Homo sapiens: one gene and its partner. The protein of the gene in region 1 purifies or fractionates together with the protein of each later gene. This does not show direct contact. Each region holds a gene or a part of one and is shown in the gene's direction. Other genes may lie near its edges.

Region 1 (3,600 bases):
GCCTGTAAGGACCCTCAGGCCAGGGGTAGGGGAGATGGCTTGGAGTCAGGCCACAGCAGCTGTCTATTGGCCAGTGGGAAGGAGCAGGGCCATCACTTCTGGATGGAGGCCCTGGCTCTGCCCTGCCAATGCCCCCAGTCTGGGTAGGGAGACTCCAGGGAGGAGTCCTGCAACCTAAGATGCCAAATCTTAGGTTGTAGTACAGAGGTGTGGGTTGGCGCACAGGCCACCAGCCATCTGGCTGGTGAGGGAGACAGGAGGAGAAGGCAGTAGAAGGGGAAGAGAAAAGGAAGGGGAAGGAGAGGAGGAGGGAAGAGGAGGCTGAGTCTGGGCAGAAAAATGATGAGGCGTGAAAGGGGCCCGTGAGCTGGGCTGGCACGGAGGCACGACCATTAGCATTTCCCAGGCGGCCGCCCTCGCCTTCAGCCTCACCTTCCCTCTGGCCAGTTGGTGGGCAGGGCCAACAGCGGCTCTGGGCTCCCTTGCTTGCTCAGAGTGGCCCTGCTTGCAGCCCCGCCGGCGTTGGCACGGTGACAGTAGCCAAGTGTGCAAACTTGTCCCATTGTCCGCAGGCCAGGGGGAGCCATGGAAACTGGCTAATATGACACAGGAAAATGTTTGCTGATGGCAATTCTATGGGCTTTGTCCACCTCTTTCTCCATCATGACGACTCGATTTAAGTCCCTAACTGTTTGACTACAAATGCAAGGGGACCGTGCAACGCCAACCTTTTGTCCGGCTGCGCTGAATGGGCAATTCAGGCTTTGTGCAGCTCAATTGAGGAAGCAAACATAAAGACAAGATTCCTGAGAGCTCCAGCTCCCTTCCCATGGATATCCCAGCACCTCGTTAGAGAGTCCTTCCTCGGCCACCTTTTCCGACAGGCATCAGCGCACCTCCTGACCTTGAAGGCCCTCCATCCCCGATCCCTGGGGGATCCTGGCAGGGAGGGTGGTGGGGGTGGCAGGGGGAGACAGAGAGAGAGACAGAGAGACAGGAGAAGAGAGAGTGAGAGCGAGAGAGCCACTCAACACTCAAGGACAGCGGGAAAAGCAGCCCGCCCCGGCTTACCCCGTCCGATTGTCTGTCCGCACTGGAGCATGGCAGCTGTAGGCCTGGAGTCTTTGGGGGAGGTTTGCAAGCCTGTCTCCACTAGGCCCAGCCCCTTCTCAATCCTGGACATTTTAAACACACACACACACACACACACACACACACCCCACCCCCTTGAGAAACCAGGGAACTGAGGTCAAGGGGAGGAGGGGGGTGGAGGCTGAGGAGAGTGGGGCTGAAGGGTAGAAATTTACCGGGAAATGATTGCATTTGGGAGCTGTCTTTTTTGTGATGGTCCCCATGGTGACAATTTGTGACGGCAAAGAATGTGGGAACGGGGCGCCGCCGCCTGATTGGGATGCTTTGTATCTGGAGAGGCGCTCCTGATTGGCCTGAGGGGCCCCCCAGCTCCGGGGAGTTGTCCTCCATTCAGCCCACTCAAGGGTTGCACAACTGCTTCCAGCCGGACGGAGCTCGGCCGGCTGCGCCGGGGCCTGTCCCAGGTCTGCAGTGGGGAACCTGCCGGGCCACGTTGGTGGGGCCTGGGCCGCACCTTCGGTCAGTGTGGAGGCCCGGTGGCTCTGGCCCGACTGGGTGGCGGGTGTGGGGGCAGGCTGGGGCCTGGGGGAGGGGCGAGGTGCCGTGGGTGGCGGCCGAGGAGGCATGAAATTGCTGCAGATGCTTCTTCGGGGGAATCCCTGCTGCCCGCAGCCTGAGATCAGCCCGCAAGGCAGGTCTCGATTAAGTGCCAGACAGGGGTCCTGCCTGGTCCTGCGTGAGAGCTGGGGGTGGAGCGTGGGGACTGAGGAGGGGGGCTGGTGCTCCTCGTGCTGGGGGCAGGAGTGGTGGGAGGGGGAGGCTACCACCAGGGAGGAAGGGGGCTTGGCCTTGCTTTAAAGAGGAACAGTTGCCTCAGCTCAGAGAATAAACACCTCGCTGGCAAGTTGCACACGTTGGCAGCGTGGTGTGTGGGAGATGGGGCAGGCTGGGAGTGTGTGCCAGCCCCAGCAATGCCACCTGTAGCTGGGTCACCTTGGGCGACTTGCTTGACCTTTCTGAGCCTTGGCTGCAAGAAGGGGCACCAGACCCAAGCAGGCTGGGCGAGGCTCTGCTGGTGCCTGCCGCATCCCAGGTGTGCAGGAAGTGCTCAGCCACTTGCACCCACATCCCTCTACCCAGGACTCTGTTTAGGGCTGAGAGGTGCTGGGGTGGGGAGACTGTTTGTAGACAGGTGCTGTGGTCTTTTGGGAGGGCTGGGTGTGGTTGCTTGGAGAGACTCCGATGGCCTGTTTTGTCCCCCAGGTCAGCTCGGTGCCCTTCCTTGGAGCTGCCGGCCACCAGCAGAGCCTACCCTCTTCATGGAAAGCCTCGTGCAGTGGCCCCCTGGTGATGGCATCCGACAGTGATGTGAAGATGCTGCTGAACTTCGTGAACCTGGCGTCCAGCGACATCAAGGCAGCCCTGGATAAGTCCGCACCCTGCCGCCGCTCCGTGGACCATCGCAAGTACCTGCAGAAGCAGCTCAAGCGCTTCTCCCAGAAGTATTCCCGGCTCCCGCGGGGCCTTCCTGGCAGAGCTGCTGAGCCCTACCTGAAAAGGGGGTCTGAGGACCGGCCCAGGAGGCTGCTCCTGGATTTGGGCCCTGATTCCAGCCCCGGCGGGGGTGGGGGCTGCAAGGAGAAGGTGCTGAGGAACCCCTACAGGGAGGAATGTCTTGCTAAGGAGCAGCTCCCACAGAGGCAGCATCCAGAAGCTGCCCAGCCTGGCCAGGTGCCCATGAGGAAAAGACAGCTGCCCGCTTCCTTCTGGGAAGAGCCAAGGCCCACCCACAGCTACCATGTGGGGCTGGAGGGGGGACTGGGCCCCAGGGAGGGACCTCCCTATGAGGGTAAGAAAAATTGCAAGGGCTTGGAGCCCCTGGGACCTGAGACTACCCTGGTGTCCATGTCTCCAAGGGCCCTGGCTGAAAAGGAGCCGCTCAAGATGCCTGGGGTCTCCTTGGTGGGCCGCGTCAATGCCTGGAGTTGCTGCCCCTTCCAGTACCATGGACAGCCCATCTATCCGGGCCCCCTGGGGGCACTGCCTCAGAGTCCTGTCCCCAGCCTGGGCCTTTGGAGGAAGAGCCCAGCCTTTCCCGGGGAGCTGGCGCACCTCTGCAAGGATGTGGACGGCCTGGGGCAGAAGGTGTGCAGGCCCGTGGTGCTGAAACCCATCCCCACCAAGCCAGCCGTGCCCCCACCCATCTTCAATGTCTTTGGCTACCTCTAGCCACGCGGAGAGGGCCTCAGCCCCCACCTCTGGCCTGCAGGAGTGTCGAGGTCCCCGAGGCGCTCTCCTGTGAGGAGGTGGCTGGGCCACAGTGTGGCCTCTTCCGTTTGTGTGCGCATGGGAGTGGAGGGCAGGATTGGGGCAGGGCTCCTCAGGCAGTGACCCTTCAGCCTTGCAGCCTTGGAAGCTGGGAGGCTGGACCTGGTTGGCCCCTCCCCAGGCAGGCCAGGGCCCAGCAGCTTGTCCCGCTGTCCCTGTGCAGACCATAGGTACTGGGAT
Region 2 (4,012 bases), on another chromosome or scaffold:
TGCCGCCACGGAGCTTGGTCCCAAACTATACTGTACTTCACACTCGATTTATTCTCCAGATGGCGAGACTGTGCCGCCCTGCCGCGAGGGACCACCTCTTCCACTGGAGTGTAAAAGTGGACGGATGTTGTTTTCTTTGCAGATTTGATCATTCTGAGCTAGAAACTTGCGAGGATGATTAGTTATTAGCTTTAATGGGTGCCAATTGAACCAACTGCACGCATATTTTCTCCTTTAATTTCAGAGTCTGCAGGTTTTGGTGATGGTTGATTTCTCCGCTTTCTTACGTCACCAGAGCGTGTCTCTTCCCCAGGTGATAGGAATCCAGTCTCTGAAATCATAGCACGCCTTGGTTCCTGGCCCAGACAGAGTCACCTAATACGGTGGCTTATGGATAAGGACAAGTTTATTAGCCACTGGTCCACTGCACTGAGCAGCATGGCACGAAATATCGATTGAATGCGGCAACTTTGGGAACACCATTTTTTAGAATGGGGGCCTGCAAAGATTGTAATCTGTGCCAACTTCCTCTATGACCTGGGCAGAGTCCACCTCTGGATCAAACATGATCCAGAACACGCTATGGTAATTAGTCTCTTCGAAGTTCTAATGTAACTGTTGATAAAGGCCTTAATTCCATTATTCAGTCATTTCCAGCTTGTCAGATCTTGGGGGACAAGTTCATTCCACAGTGAGAATGGCTCACCAAGGCTGTCCTGTAGTGTTAACACATTTAGAATGCAGTCCCTCTCAAACCTCATTTTAAACAACCTGTATTACTCCTAGGATATAAAAGCCCCCATAAAAGCTCTTTTTGGGGTGACCGCTTTTACCTTAATTTCCTTTTTCTCCTTCCTCCAGGAAGCACTTACCTCCCAATAGTCGTAGCAGGTCACCCTGAGAGCCCTTCTGAGAGCTGGGGTCAGCCAGGCAGCCTCTTGCTAATCCACCTAAGATGGATATTGGAGGGATGGTCAGAGCCAACCAGGAGCCAAAGAAAGAGAGAAAGAAAAAGAAGGAAAGTGTGAAGCGTGAAGGATGAGGTGGTGGAGATGAGAGAGCTGAGAGCGCTGTTAGCAAGAAGTACAGTGTGTGTGGCAGAGAGAGGGAAAAAGAGAATAAAATGAACAGAATTTCTTTCTTTTCACAACTGGGTGGACTGTGACTCTCTCGAACTGAACACCCAGAACTAAACTTAATTGTTCTTAGAAACTGCCTTCCTCCCAACCCAACAGATGGCATGGGCGTGTTTGCTAGCACAGTCAAATACTTCACCCTGAAAATACCAAAAAGAAAAAAAAAAATTCAACATGCTCGCTGGTTGGGGTAAATTCACTGAAGTTGTTGAGTGTTTTGGGATATATACCAGAGGGATGCACACTTGGTTTATGTAAATTGTAACAAGCAACAGCCGGTTAATAAGGGTGTCGTATGGCAACTTACCTCAAAAGCCATCCTCTGTTTTTGGAAATGTACAGAATGATGAAGTGTAAAGAGCTTGGTTTCCATTCTGAGCCAAAATTTTTTAAATGCTGAGTATTCACTGCTCATTATTATAATATGAAAAGTACTAATCAGATTATGCCTAAAATTGGAAGTAGGTACTTCATTTGCAGCCAATTTCACAAGGGCCGAATTTTGCTAAGTAAACTGGAATGTGCTGAAACCATGGCAATCCGACTTTAGATAAAAATCAAACAGGTTTAGAACATGAGCTTTGAACAAACAAGTCCCTTCAAATCCAAGTGAAACCAAACAGCTTCAAGATCAGATTTTGTTTGACACCAGCCAACATTAACAATTTAGGAAGTTGATGTTGCCAGGGATCCTGCGTTCTTGAGCACACATGCAGATTAGAGGATGGAGATGATGACTCAAATAATTTAAGCTTTAAAATGCAGTATGGCCTAAAAAACTGAGTGAGTTCCCTTCAATTTTCCATTCATACTGTCCCAGTAGACTCTTTGCAAGGCTGACTTAGCTATTAAAAGGGAACCTGGAAGTCACATTGACAAACTCCAGCAATCTTATCTCGTTTTTTTGTAGCTGCATAGGCTACACAGAGAAGAACATGCTTTAGGTTCTCCACAGCCATGGATCTAAATGTGCCTTCCAAAAAGCTGAAAGTATTTCAGTTTTTTGGTTTGTTTGTTTTCGCTTTTGAGATGGAGTCTCGCTCTGTGTCCTATGCTGGAGTGCAGAGGTACAGTCTCGGCTCACTGCAACCTCTACCTCCTGGGTTCAAACGATTCTCCTGCCTCAGCCTCCCGAGTAGCTGGAACTACAGGTATGTGCCACTACACCCGGCTAATTTTTGCATTTTTAGTAGAGATGGGGTTTCACCATGTTGGCCAGGCTGGTCTTGAACTCTTGACCTCAGGTGATCCACCCCCTCAGCCTCTCAAAGGGCTGGGATTACAGGTGTGAGGCACCATGCCCAGCCAGAGCTCAAGTATTTCTCCCAGCAGCTCTAGACAGCTTTAGAGCCAAGATACTGAGCCAACTTCTGCTCTTCACCTTTAAGATTTTCGTATTTAGGGCCGGGCACCGTGGCTCACACCTGTAATCCCAGCACTTTGGGAGGCTGAGGCGGGTGGATCACCTGAGATCAGGAGTTCAAGGTCAGCCTGGCCAACACAGTGAAACCCTGTCTCTACTAAAAATACAAAAATTAGCTGGGTGTGGTGGCGGGTGCCTGTAGTCCTAGCTACTCAGGGGGCTGAGGCAGGAGAATCACTTGAACTCAGGAGGCAGAGATTGCAGTGAGCCGAGATTGCGCCACTGCACTCCAGCCTGGGTGACAGAGTGAGACTGTGTCTCAAAAAAAAGAGAAGATTTTCGTATTTAATGGCTGTAATAAAGAATGCATGGTAGAGCAAGTGGGCGAGTTTTATATCTATGGAATAAAACAAAGGTATGATGTGGAACCAAGCCATTGCTGGCTGCATCATCTCTGACTTTAGCTAGTCTGAGCTCTCTCTTGCTTTTGTCTAAGTTGGCCTAATTATTGGCAGATGAAGCTCTGTAAATCAGGACTTCACAGAGCAGTCCTAAACTGTCTTAGGTACTCTTCCCATCTGACCCGACAACTCTAAGCTACCGTTTCCTCACATTGTTTAACTCAGACCACATTTGGAAGCATTCCTTGCTTCTCCCCGCTCATAGACCCACATCTGTCTGGTTTAAATCTGCTGTCCTGGGTTGTCTTGTTGCTGGGACTTAGACTCAATATTTGGCTTAAATAATTCTTTTTTGTCTCTGCTTTGGTTTGCTATTTTCCTAGATCAGTATTGCTTTTCAAATGGTTATATATTATTGAGACCTTTTTTGTAAACTACATTCATCAGCAGTGAGAAGCTTTAAAGTTTTATTAGTATCATAAAAACCCTTCCCAAATGAAACTACTTTTGATAAGTGTTCATTCTGACAATGAGAATTTGTTGAGGGCTGTTGGCAAGTTGGAGGAGTTGGCTTTTGAAACTGAAATTGGCAGGAAGTAATGACCCCCAGTGCTTTCTTTCTCTTGACTCCAGCCTCACCCTTTCCATGCACTTCTTTCTCTCCCCAACCCCACCTTCATTGCCCCCAAGCCAAAGCCAAGAAATAACATACTTGGTTTCATATAGTTTTTCTGGGGACAATTCAAATACTGAAGCAGACTTTCAGCCTTTCAGCTTTTCTGAACTGTGGAGCAAAGCCTGTCAAGTCAAAGAAAAAAAAAGTATTTGTCAAGCACTTCATGAAGGGATTCCTTGCCTTCCACCTGAAGAAGTGGGAGCTTTTCTTGTAGTACACATTGTCAGATTCCTGTGAGCATCTTCTTAATTGAATGTCAAGATTCAACTCAGTTGCAAAAAAATAGTGAGTAAAAAAAGCATGATGCCTGTGGAAAAAGAAAAATCCTTATTTTTTCCCTAATGTGAAGAAGCTGACAGACGAGATGGCCACAATCTAGATGTTAGCCAATTTCTTATGTTTATTAAATGAGAAAGTGCAGGGAAAGAACATAGAA

Evidence for each region.
Region 2: the proteins of FAM181A (region 1) and CLYBL purify together in Homo sapiens (affinity purification with mass spectrometry; one large-scale study listed by BioGRID and IntAct). This does not show direct contact.

The regions. Positions count from the first base shown.
Region 1 is NC_000014.9:93,925,844-93,929,443, forward strand, and holds the start of FAM181A (protein FAM181A), read left to right. Parts: upstream 1-1,500; 5' UTR 1,501-1,611; exon of another isoform or gene 1,612-1,783; intron 1,784-2,355; coding exon of another isoform or gene 2,356-2,442; coding exon 2,443-3,321; 3' UTR 3,322-3,600.
Region 2 is NC_000013.11:99,854,495-99,858,506, forward strand, and holds part of CLYBL (citramalyl-CoA lyase, mitochondrial isoform 1 precursor), read left to right. Parts: intron 1-4,012. UniProt on the Homo sapiens protein: Mitochondrial citramalyl-CoA lyase indirectly involved in the vitamin B12 metabolism. Converts citramalyl-CoA into acetyl-CoA and pyruvate in the C5-dicarboxylate catabolism pathway.